3 linked regions of the Homo sapiens genome follow. The protein of the gene in region 3 interacts with the protein of the main gene of each other region in a pairwise test. Each region holds a gene or a part of one and is shown on either strand. Other genes may lie near its edges.

Region 1 (3,749 bases), on a different chromosome or scaffold from region 3:
CTTTGGGAGGCCGAGATGGGCGGATCAGGAGGTCAGGAGTTCAAGACCAGCCTGACCAACATGGAGAAACCCTGTCTCTACTAAAAATACAAAAATTAGCCAGGCATGGTGTCATGCGCATGTAGTCCCAGCTACTCGGGAGGCTGAGGCAGGAGAATTACTTGAACTCAGGAGGCGGAGGTTGCGGTGGGCCAAGATCGCGCCATTATACTCCAGCCTGGGCAACAAGAGTGAGACTCCGTCTCAAAAAAGAAAAAAAAGGGATAGGATCTACTATTATCTCCATTTTACAAATGAGGACATTAAGGCCCAAGAAGTTAAGTGACTTGCTCAAGATCTGGTTAGTGGCAGAGCTGGGATATGAACCCAAACAGTCTCCAAAGTCCAGACTCTTTTTTTTTTTTTTTTTTGAGATGGAGTCTCACACTGTTACCCAGGCTGGAGTGCAGTGGCATGATCTCAGCTCACTGCAATCTCCGCCTCCCGGGTTCAAGCGATTCTCCTGCCTCAGCCTCCCAAGTAGCTGGGATTACAGGTGCTCGGCACCACGCCCAGCTAATTTTTTGTATTTTTAGTAGAGACGGCGTTTCACCATGTTGGCCAGGCTGGTCTCAAACTTCTGACTTTGTGATTCACCCGCCTCAGCCTCCCAAAGTGCTGGGATTACAGGCCTGAGCCACCGCGCCCAGCCAAGTCCACACTCTTAAAAACTACACTCAACTGCTATTTCTTGGTTTATTTTATTTTATTCTTTTTTTGAGATGGAGTTTCACTCTTGTCCCCTAGGCTAGAGTGCAGTGGTGCCATCTTGGCTCACTGCAACCTCCACCTCCAGAGTTCAAGCAATTCTGCCTCAGCCTCCCGAGTAGCTGGGATTACAGGTGCCCACCATCACGCCCATCTAATTTTTGTATTTTTAGTAGAGATGACGTTTCACCGTGTTGGCCAGGCTGGTCTCTAACTCCTGACCTCAGGTGATCCACCTGCCTTGGCCTCCCAAAGTACTGGGATTACAGGCATGAGCCACTGCGCCCAGCCTTTGATTCCTTTTAGAAAAAAGGAAAAATTTTAAAAATTAGCCATGTGTGACAGCACATGCCTTTCTGTGGTCCCAGCTACTCAGGAGGCTGAGATGGGAGGATTGCTTGAGCCTGGGAGGTCAAGGCTGCAATGAGCCATGACTGTGTCACTGCACTCCAGCCTGGGTGACAGAGCAAGACCTTGTCTCCAAAACTAAAATAAAAAGATGATATTAGTCCCCTACCCTAAACTTTAGCTTTCCTCACCCCTTCCTACAATTTCTGTCCTCTGTTTTCATGTTATCAAAGTAGACTATAATTATCTGCTGCTTTAAAACCGTAATTATCTTCCATGTTTTATCTGTGGATTGACTCTAAACATTGAAAATTAATATAAAATGTGTATGTTATTTAAGCCATGTATTTAATAAATATTGTTCCAACAGAGCCAAATAATGTTTAACAGTTACATTTGCTTTCTTATGTTACTTTTGTTTTTCTTGGAGTTTCTAGTTGCCTTTCTTTATTCTCTCATTATATTTGCCTTCATTTCCTTAGTTTTTTTTCTGTTCAAGCTTTTCATTGTCTTGTATGTCACCATTCTTTAAATAGAAGCAAAATTAGTCTCTCTGTGGTCCCCATTTGTGGGTTACCGCTTGACTTGTTCAGGATGAAACCCCTTCCTTTTCTGCCAGGCAGCCCTGCAGATGCTGCTGACTGCCTTGAGGATTTTAAGTGTATGGCATGCACTCCTCAACTGTCGTGGTGTCATTGTCCCCATATGGTAGACTTGGAAAGCTGGGAAGGAGAGAAGAGTCTAACCTTGTTTCAGGTTATCTGCCATTGTGCCATCACCATTGTTTTCAGCAGCATTTGCTAGTGATTGAGACCTAGCTGGCACAGGCTGGGGGCTCAGTGTGCTAAGTCTGTGGAGCCAGGAACTTGGGACAGGGTTGAGGTTGCTCATCCTCAGGACATGAGCTGGGGGAGAGGATGCCTTTACCATTCCATGATCTGCCTCCCGTGGGCAGAGTTCCAGGAGAAGAAAACCAGGCAGGTGCTGATTAATCTTTTTTTTTTTTTTTTTTTTTGAGACAGAGTCTTTTTGTATTGCCCAGGCAGTGCAGTGGTGCCATCTCAGCTCACTGCAACCTCTGCCTGTGAGGTTCAAGCAATTCTCATGCCTCAGCCTCCCCAGTAGCTGAGATTACAGGTGTGCACCACCATGCTGGGCTAATTTTTGTATTTTTAGTAGAGACGGAGTTTCGTCATGTTGGTCAGGCTGGTCTTGAATGCCTGGCCTCATGTGATCTGCCCAGCTCACCCTCCCAAACTGCTGGGATTACAGGCATGAGCCACTGTGCCCAGTCTAATCTTGATTTGCAAGCTGGTTGCTGAGTGTCCACTCTGTGTGCCTGCTTTTTTTTTTTTTTTTTTTTTTTTTGCAATAAGGTCTTACTCTGTCACCCAGGCTAAAGTGCAGTGGTACGGTCATAGCTCACTGCAGCCTTGACCTCCCAGGCTTAAGTGATCATCCTGTTTCTGCCTCCTGAGTAGCTGGAACTACAGATGTGTGCCACCATACCCAGTTAATTTTTAATTTTTAATTTTTAATTTTTTAGAGTTGTTTTTTGTTGTTGTTGTTGTTGTTGTTGTTTTCTTTTTGAGACAGTTTCACTCTTACTGCCCAGGCTGGAGTGCAATGGCGTGATCCTGGCTCACTGCAACCTCCGCCTCCCAGGTTTAAGTGATTGTCCTGCCTCAGCCTCCCAAGTAGCTGGGATTACAGGCGCACACCACCAAGCCTGGCTAATTTAGTATTTTTATATAGAGACAGGGTTTCACTGTGTTGGCCAGGCTGGTCTCGAACTCCTGACCTCAGGTGATCTGTACACCTCAGCCTCCCAAAATGCTGGGAGTACAGGCATGAGCCACTGGGCCCAGCCCCCCTCTTTTTTTTTTTTTCCTGTCCTACTAAGTTAGGCTGGACTAATGACAGGGATTCTCATTGACCAAGGTGCTTCCTGAGGTGGAGGAGGAGGTAGTCACTGAGCCTCTAGTGTATGCTGGGTACACATAACTTCCAGATACACACATCTAAGTGTTCATGCTTCCAAAATCCCTTTATTCCTCGTACCGAACATCCTACTTTTTGCCAAGTTTGGAGGTATCAGAGCAAGAAACTGAAGGCTGTTACCTCTTTCGCCACCCAAGTTCTCTGGGCCTGGAGGTTATCACTCTCTGCTTTTTGAGGCCTTACCCTGATGGCTACTGAGGAAGGAGCTGGGTGGGGCCTCTGTGTTGGTCACTCGTCTCAGACCACTGAGCAGTCCTCAGGGTTACTGGCTATCTGTCCAGTCTGAAGATCGAGCCGCCCGTCCCTTCTCTTTCTCTGGCTCCAGTAAGCCAGGCATCTCAGCTCCATGCAGAACCTTCTTCACTTCCACCTCCAGGCCTTTACCCTGCTTTCCTGCTTTTCTGCCTAGTTAGATTCATCCATCCGTGCTTTGAGGCTCCCTTCCCTCATGCAAGCTTTGTGTATTGCCCTAGGCCACGCTGATCCTTTTCTTTTTTTTTTTCAGTATTTATTGATCATTCTTGGGTGTTTCTCAGAGAGGGGGATGTGGCAGGGTCATAGGATAATAGTGGAGAGAAGGTCAGCAGATAAACACGTGAACAAAGGTCTCTGGTTTTCCTAGGCAGAGGACCCTGCAGCCTTCCTCAGTGTTT
Region 2 (3,749 bases), on a different chromosome or scaffold from region 3:
AACCACAGGTTGGTCCTTCTCTATCCACAGACCACACAGCTGCCAAGGGTAGCATGCGCTAGAGCTGCCGATCCTTAGAGTTTCCTGTGCAGCCAGCATTTCCAGCTGTTTGAGAGCCGCACCAGGACAGGACGATGGCTTTCTTCCCATCCTCCTCACTTAGGACAGGACGGGGTGGGCACAGGGACCCATCCAGCAAGTTATTATTTTTGTAGTTATTAAGATAGAAAGTATAGGCCGGGCATGGTGGCTCACACCTGTAATCCCGCCTCAGCCTCCCAAAGTGCTGGGATTACAGCGGTAAGTCATCATGCCCAGACGATTATTTTTTATTTGTATACGTTTATGGGGTACAAGTGTAACTTTATTGCATGGATAGATTCCAAAATGATGAAGTTAGGGCTTTCAGGTATCCACTAACCCAGTGACACACATTGTATCCATTAGATAATTCTTTTTTTTTGATGGAGTCTTGCTCTGTGACCCAGGCTGGAGTGCAGTGGCGTGATCTCAGCTCACTGCAACCTCCGCCTCCCGGGTTCAAGCGATTCTCCTGCCTCAGCCTCCTGAGTAGCTGGGACTATGGGCGTGTGCCACCACGCCCGGCTAATGTATCCATCATCATAACACACAACCATTTGAATGAATCTCACAGGCATTGTGCTGAGTGAAAAAGGTCACCCTCAGAAGGTGAGGCGATGGACGATTCCATTTATACAAGAGTCTCAAAGTGACAAAGTGATAGAGACGTAGAACAGATTAGCAGGTGCTAGGGTGGGAGAGCGATTATAAAGGGGCAGCATGAGGGAGTTCCTACGTGGTGGTGGGACAGTTCTGTGTCTTGATTGTGGCGGTGGTTCTATAAAGCCATACATACAGGCAATAAAATGTTACAGAACTATACCCATAGGCAAAGAAAAGGGAGGAGGAAAAGAAGGTGGAAGAGGAGGAAGAGCAGGAGAAAAGAAGGAAAAGGAGAAAAGGAAATAGAAATAGAAGGAAGAGGAAGAGAAAAAGAGAAACGAATTATGCACAAACTGGTGAGATCTGAGTGACCTCTGGAACCTGGTTAAACGTGTGATGCCAGTGCAAAGTCTCTGGTTTTGAAAATGTGCCATACGCCGGGCGTGGTGGCTCACGCCTGTAATCCCAGCAGTTTGGGAGGCCGAGGCAGGCGGATCGCCTGAGGTCAGAAGTTCGAGACCAGCCTGGGCAACATGGCAAAACCTCGTTTCTACTAAAAAGAACAAAAAAAATTAGCCAAGAGTGGTGGCGGACACCTGTCATCCCGGCAACTCGGGAGGCTGAGGCAGGAGAATCGCTTGAACCCGGGAGGCAGAGGTTGCAGTGAGCCAAGATTGTGCCACTGCACTCCAGCCTGGCTGACAGAGATTCTGTCTCAAAAAAAAAAAAAAAAAAAAAAAGTACTGTAATTATAAGAGATTACCATTGGCCGGGCACAGTGGCTTATGCCTGTAATCCCAGCACTTTGGGAGGCTGAGGTGGGCGGGTCACTAGAGACCAGGAGTTCAAGACCAGCCTGGCCCACATGGTGAAATCCCATCTCTACAAAAAATTAGCTGGGTGTGGTGGTGCATGCTTGTAATCCCAGCTACTTGGGAGTCTGAGGCAGGAGAATCCTTAAACCCATGAGGCAGAGGTTGCAGTGAGCCGAGATCGCGCCACTGCACTCCAGCCTGGGTGACAGAGCAAGACTCTGTCCCCCCCGCCCCCCAAAAAAAGGTTAACATTGTGGGGAGCTGGCTAGTGGGTACACGGAAGCTATAAAGCTATAGGTATTAATGTTTGTTTGTTTGCTTGTTTGAGACAGTTTCACCGTTGTTGTCCAGGCTGGAGTGCAGTGGCACAATCTTGGCTCACAGCAACCTCCGCCTCCTGGGTTCAAGCCATTCTCCTGTCTCAGCCTCCGGAGTAGCTGGGATTACAGGCATGCGCCACCATGCCTGGCTAATTTTGTATTTTTAGTAGAGACGGGGGTTTCTCCATTTTGGTCAGGCTGGTCTTGAACTCCCGACCTCAGGTGATCCGCCCGCCTCAGCCTCTCAAGGTGCTGGGATTACAGGCGTGAGCCACCGCGTCCGGCCGGTATTAGTGTTTTAAAATAAAAAATTACATTTACAGAAAACTCTTGGCAGAACTTCAGATAAGGTAGGACAGAGCTCGGGCGGGTGGGGCCACACACACCGGATTCATGGGGAAGAAGTTATCATCGACGGCTTCTTGTTTCCTGAGTCGGTTGTGAGAAGGAAACTGCAAGAGTGGGGCAGAGAACCAGAGTGTCAGAGCAAAACCTCCTCTATCTGCACATCCTGGGGACGAACCGGGCAGCCGGAGAGCTGCGGCCGGCCCAGTCCCGCTCCGCCTTTGAAGGGTAAAACCCAAGGCGGGGCCTTGGTTCTGGCAGAAGGGACGCTATGACCGCAGAATTCCTCTCCCTGCTTTGCCTCGGTGAGTCTCCAGGACTGGGACGAATGGGCTTGGGCTGGTGAGAAAAACTCATGTGGGAGTGGCAGTCCAGGTGGAAATGCGGTGTGTGGAAGTAATGACTTCCAGGTGTTGCACACCTGCGGTGGGTGGGTCTGGGCTGTGGGTTCTGTGAGTTCTGCCGCCCACATGCAAGCGAGGAGGAGGCCGCGCTGCAGAGACACGGGGACAGACTCCGCTGGGAAAGGCAGAGCTGCTGTGGGGTCTCCGAGTCTGCAGCCGCTAAATACCGCAGTACTGCCATCATCCTCCGTCGGAATAGAGGAGGGCTGGGCTTAGGGATCTACAGGGTGCAAGGCTGTGGGCAAAAAGACAATTTTCTTCTCTCTCTCTCTTATTTATTTATTTATGTATGTATGCATTTATTTATGAGACAGAGTCTCACTCTGTAGCCCAGGCTGGAGTGCAATGGCGTGATCTGGGCTCACTGCAACCTCCGTCTCCCAGGTTCAAGCGATTCTCCTGCCTCAGCCTCCCGAGTAGGTGGGACTACAGGTGCAGGCCACCACACCCGGCTGACTTTTGTATTTTAAGTAGAGACGGGGTTTCACCATGTTGGTCAGGCTGGTCTCGAGCCCCTGACCTCAGGTGATCCGCCCGCCTCAGCCTCCCAAAGTGCTGGGATTACAGGCGTGAGCCACCACACCTGGCCCCAAGAAGACAATTTTCTGACCAGCTCGATTCTTAGGCTGATTTTAACCATCCTCCAATTGAACCTGATGTATTCAGACAGAGCTCACACTGTGAAACGGATGACCTGGGTTATAATCTCGGCTTTACTACATAGAAACTCTAGGCTTGACCCAGCAGAGCTCCACCTCCCTAAGGCCCCAGTTCCTCCCTGGTGCACGGGGGGTGCGGTGGACATCGACGTGCTTCGTCTGCTTCAGTTCCTTCCTCCTTTTCTGGGTGCAGCCCTTCCTTGTGGGGTAATGCTCGTCTCCTACACACATTTGCACCTTAGATGAGCATTTTTTTTTTTTTTTGACAGAGTCTTGCTTTGTCTCCCAGGCTGGAGTGCAGTGGTGTGATCTCAGCTCACTGCAACCTCCACCTCCTGGGTTCAAGCGATTCTCCTGCCTCCGCCTCCCGAGAAGCTGGGATTATAGGCACACGCCACCACGCCTGGCTAATTTTTTGTGTTTTTAGTAGAGATGGGGTTTCACCATGTTGGCCAGGCTGGTCTCAAACTCCTGAACTCAGGTGATCTACCCACTTCAACCTCCTAAAGTGCTGGGATTACA
Region 3 (3,749 bases):
AAGAGGAGAGAGTGTCAGGATGAGGAGGGTCCAGACACCGGAGACGGGAGAAGGAGAGGGCCCAGGGAGCTGTCTAGTGAGGAGGGCTGGGCACAGGGGACTCCAGGGGAGGGTTGGACAAGGAGGATTTTGGGGTGGGGGATGCCCAGGCCTTTGACTTCAGGGACCAGCACAAGTCCTCAGTCACACAGGCCCCTCACACCCCTGGGGACCCACGTGATAGCGATATGAGGGGTCCCATGGTCAGAGCTGGGGGCAGGGGCAGGAGGACACAGGGAGAGCTGGGGGCAGCCAGCCCTTCATGGGCTTATGCTCACCTACCTGCTGGACAATCAGGTTCACAAATGAGTTTCCTTCCAAACCCAACTACTTATCTTTCCCTCCACCAATGCGCAGCTCTCATCCCCACCCCACAGAGCATCAGAAGCTGGGTCCACTGTGATCCTCCCTGTCCCAGTCTTTCTAGAGACCTTGCATCCTCTTCACACTAGGCCCGTCAGAGGCTGGGGCCTGACCTCCTCAGAGTTAGGACCCACCAGTGCGCGTGGTGGAGGTACAGAAATGATAGGAGAAATCCTTCTAAACATATAAAGAGGGCATTTTAGGAGAGTTTCCCCTTTCCTCTTACCATTTTTAAACCCCTGGACTTTCACCTTATTCTCCAAGTACTGGAAGTTTTCATACGTCCTTGTCATGCTTGGGCCAACACGGCTCTGAGGTTGTCACAGCTGAAATGGAGGCAGGGCCGGCGCCCAGTCTGGGGTGGAGCTGGGGAATAGGAGGTTGGGACTAAGTTGGAGCCAAGGGCAGGGCTGACGTTGAGTTGGGAGATGAGGCTCAGGTTGAGAATGAGCCCAGGGTTAAGACGGAAATGAGCCTGGGTTTGCAGTCGAGTTAGAATTGGGGTCGAGTTGAGTTTGGGAGTGAAACTGGAGGGTAACGTTGGAGCTAAACGCATTGCTAGGACTACCCAGTGGGCCAGTTAATCAGGCAGGACTGGAGGTTGTATCTCATGCTAGGATTGGGGTCAGTATGCACGTTGGAGCCATGGATGGAATTGGGGTTAACTTTGGTGGTGAATTTGGAAACAGAATAGAGTCGAGGTTCAATTTTGGCTTTGGGCTGGTGTTAAAATTCAAGTTGATTCTGGGGTTGGGGTTGAAGTAGGAGCTGGGTGGGGGGCGACAGGTGCGGTGGCTCACGCCTATAAATCCCAGCACTTTGGGAGACCGAAGCAGACAGATCACTTTAGGTCAGGAGTTTGAGACCGGCCTGGCCAACATGGTGAAACCCCATCTCTACTAAAAATACAAAAATTAGCTGGGTGTGGTGGTGTGCGCCTGTAATCCCAGCTACTTGGGAGGCTGAGGCAGGAGAATCACTTGAACCCAGGAGGCAGAGGTGGCAGTGAGCCGAGGTTGTGCCGTTGCACTCCAGCCTGGACGACACAGTGAGACTCAGTCTCAAAAAAAAAGAAAATGTAGAAGCTGGGGTTAGTATTGGGATTAGGGCATGGCTGGGCTGAGATGAAGATAAGGCTGGAAATGGGCCACCAATGAGGCTGAGTCTGAGTCTTAGTTTATTTTTATTTTTATTTATTTATTTTTTGAGATGGAATTTCGTTCTTGTCGCCCAGGCTGTTGTGCAACGAGGCCGTCTCGGCTCACTGCAACCTCTGCCTCCTGGGTTCACAAGATTCTCCTGCCTCAGCTCCCGGAGTCTTAGTTTATGACAGGGGATTGTGGCTGCCGTAACCCAATCTAGAATCCAGTGAAGGGAACAGAGTCTCAAATCTCCACGTAGTAATTAAACCCCACACTGCCGCCTTATATTTATTTTCATTTAGTCCCACCCAAGACCCAAAGTCCCCCTCTCCCTGCTTCCTCTGACATCCCCTGTCCCCTGGGTCTCACCGGCACCGGCAGCACCATTACCTGTGGGAGGTCTGGAGGGTGTGATTCCCACGTTGGTTGTGCTGCAAGGACCAGAGGTGGGACGTCACTCAGAGTTGGGAGCGCTGTGTCCTGGAGAGCTGGGGTAGAGGTGACTGGAGTCCTGCTGGTCTTGGGTCTGAAATCCCAGGAGCCCTATCATCTGGGACATCCCATCTCCTCAACTTTAGACAGTAAATGAGAATGAACAGGGATTAGAACACACAGAGACCATGTGTGGGTGGGGAGAGTTGGGTTTGAGGCCAGCTCTGTTCTCCTCCTCCAGGCCATGCCTACTTCCTTTCCTCTTCTCGGAGCTTCCTCATTTTTACCATCTGGGAGCAGGGCTGGATCAGAGGTACAATCTGCTGTTGCTCCTCTACCCTACACTTCCTTTCACTTCCTGCCTCTACATTTCCCAGAATTGTTGGGTCTCCATCATCGCACCTCTGATCCTAGAGAAGCCCAGTCTGTTCTCTTGCTCAATCCTGGCCTGAGTCCCTGGCATCAGCATCCTCTGGGTCCCAGTCATTCGGCTGCTCAGCTGTGGCCTCGCTCGCCTCACTCCACTCGGAAGGAGGGAAGGGGGTGCCAGAGAATAGAACTTCTTGGCCCTAATAGGACGGGAGAAGCCAAGGAAAAGAGCAAATTTTATTGAGTAATCTGTGATAGGATTATGCCAGACATTTACCTTCCACAACCATTCCCCCCAAGCACCTGGGGAGGCATTTTGGATGACGGACTAAAGGCTCAGAGCCCAAGATCACTCACAGCTTGTAAGGAGACAGTTTGGCACCCTGCTCTGGCTCTCAGCACAGGCGCTGTCTTCATGAACAGGATTCCATTTCATCCCATGATCCCTGCTCAACCCCTAAGGGAGCTGCCCTGAATCCACGCGCACATCCCTTTCAGTAGGAAGGAAACTGAGTATCTTACAAGGTGGAGAAGGAGAAGAAATACATTTTAGGTTATATTTTGTATGTACATGGGGTTGTGTTCTGCTATGTGCTTTTTTTTTTTTTTTTTGGAGTTAACAAGCTATCAGGAACATTTCTCCACATCAGTTTATAAAATGTACTTGATCTACCTGCACCTCATTTCATCATAGGCACCGTAATTTATTTATTTAGCATTTCTCTATTGACAGAAATAAATCAGAAATTTAAGTTGTTTCTTTTTCTTTTCTTTTTTATTTTATTTATTTATTTATTTTTTTGAGACAGAGTCTCACTCTGTTGCCCAGGCTGGAGTGCAGTGACACAATCTCGGCTACTGCATCTCCTGGGTTTAAGCGATTCTCCTGCCTCAGCCTCCCGAGTAGCCGAGATTACAGGTCCCGCCACCACACCCAGCTAATTCTTGTATTTTTAGTAGAGAGGGGTTTCACCATATTGGCCAGGCTGGTCTTGACCTCCTGACCTCACATGATCTGCCCGCCTCAGCCTCCCAAAGTGCAGGGATTACAGGCGCGAGCCACCGCACCCGGCCAGGTCGTTGCCAGTTTTGTTTTTATTTGGTATTCGGTATTTTGATTAGTATATGTCGCAGGTTCGGTTTTTGGAAGCCAAGGTTGAGGCTGAATTTGGGGTACAAGCTATTTATTAGGGATTAGCACTTCGAAAAGGAAAGTGGATGAAATGGTGCTGGGCAGAGGGAGAAGCCCAGCACTTTGGAGAGCTTCAACCAAACCAACAGGGAGCTCTGGGTTCAAACAATGCCACCCCCGGGAGCTGTCCAGCATTGGACTGCCACAGGGTCCTGTAGAGCACCAGCTCCTTCGGTCACTGGCAGTCAGCCCTGACATGGGTGTGACCTCAG

The links.
Region 1: the proteins of CLEC10A (region 3) and CLN6 interact in binary tests that used the Homo sapiens proteins (3 or more experiments, as listed by UniProt).
Region 2: the proteins of CLEC10A (region 3) and VSTM1 interact in binary tests that used the Homo sapiens proteins (3 or more experiments, as listed by UniProt).

What each region holds. Positions count from the first base shown.
Region 1 is NC_000015.10:68,222,980-68,226,728, reverse strand, and holds part of CLN6 (ceroid-lipofuscinosis neuronal protein 6), read left to right. Parts: intron 1-3,749.
Region 2 is NC_000019.10:54,062,464-54,066,212, reverse strand, and holds the start of VSTM1 (V-set and transmembrane domain-containing protein 1 isoform 1 precursor), read left to right. Parts: upstream 1-2,315; 5' UTR 2,316-2,435; coding exon 2,436-2,469; intron 2,470-3,749.
Region 3 is NC_000017.11:7,078,118-7,081,866, forward strand, and holds the start of CLEC10A (C-type lectin domain family 10 member A), read right to left. Parts: upstream 2,135-3,749; 5' UTR 1,935-2,134; intron 769-1,934; 5' UTR 696-768; coding exon 629-695; intron 1-628. UniProt on the Homo sapiens protein: C-type lectin receptor involved in recognition of N-acetylgalactosamine (GalNAc)-terminated glycans by myeloid antigen presenting cells (APCs).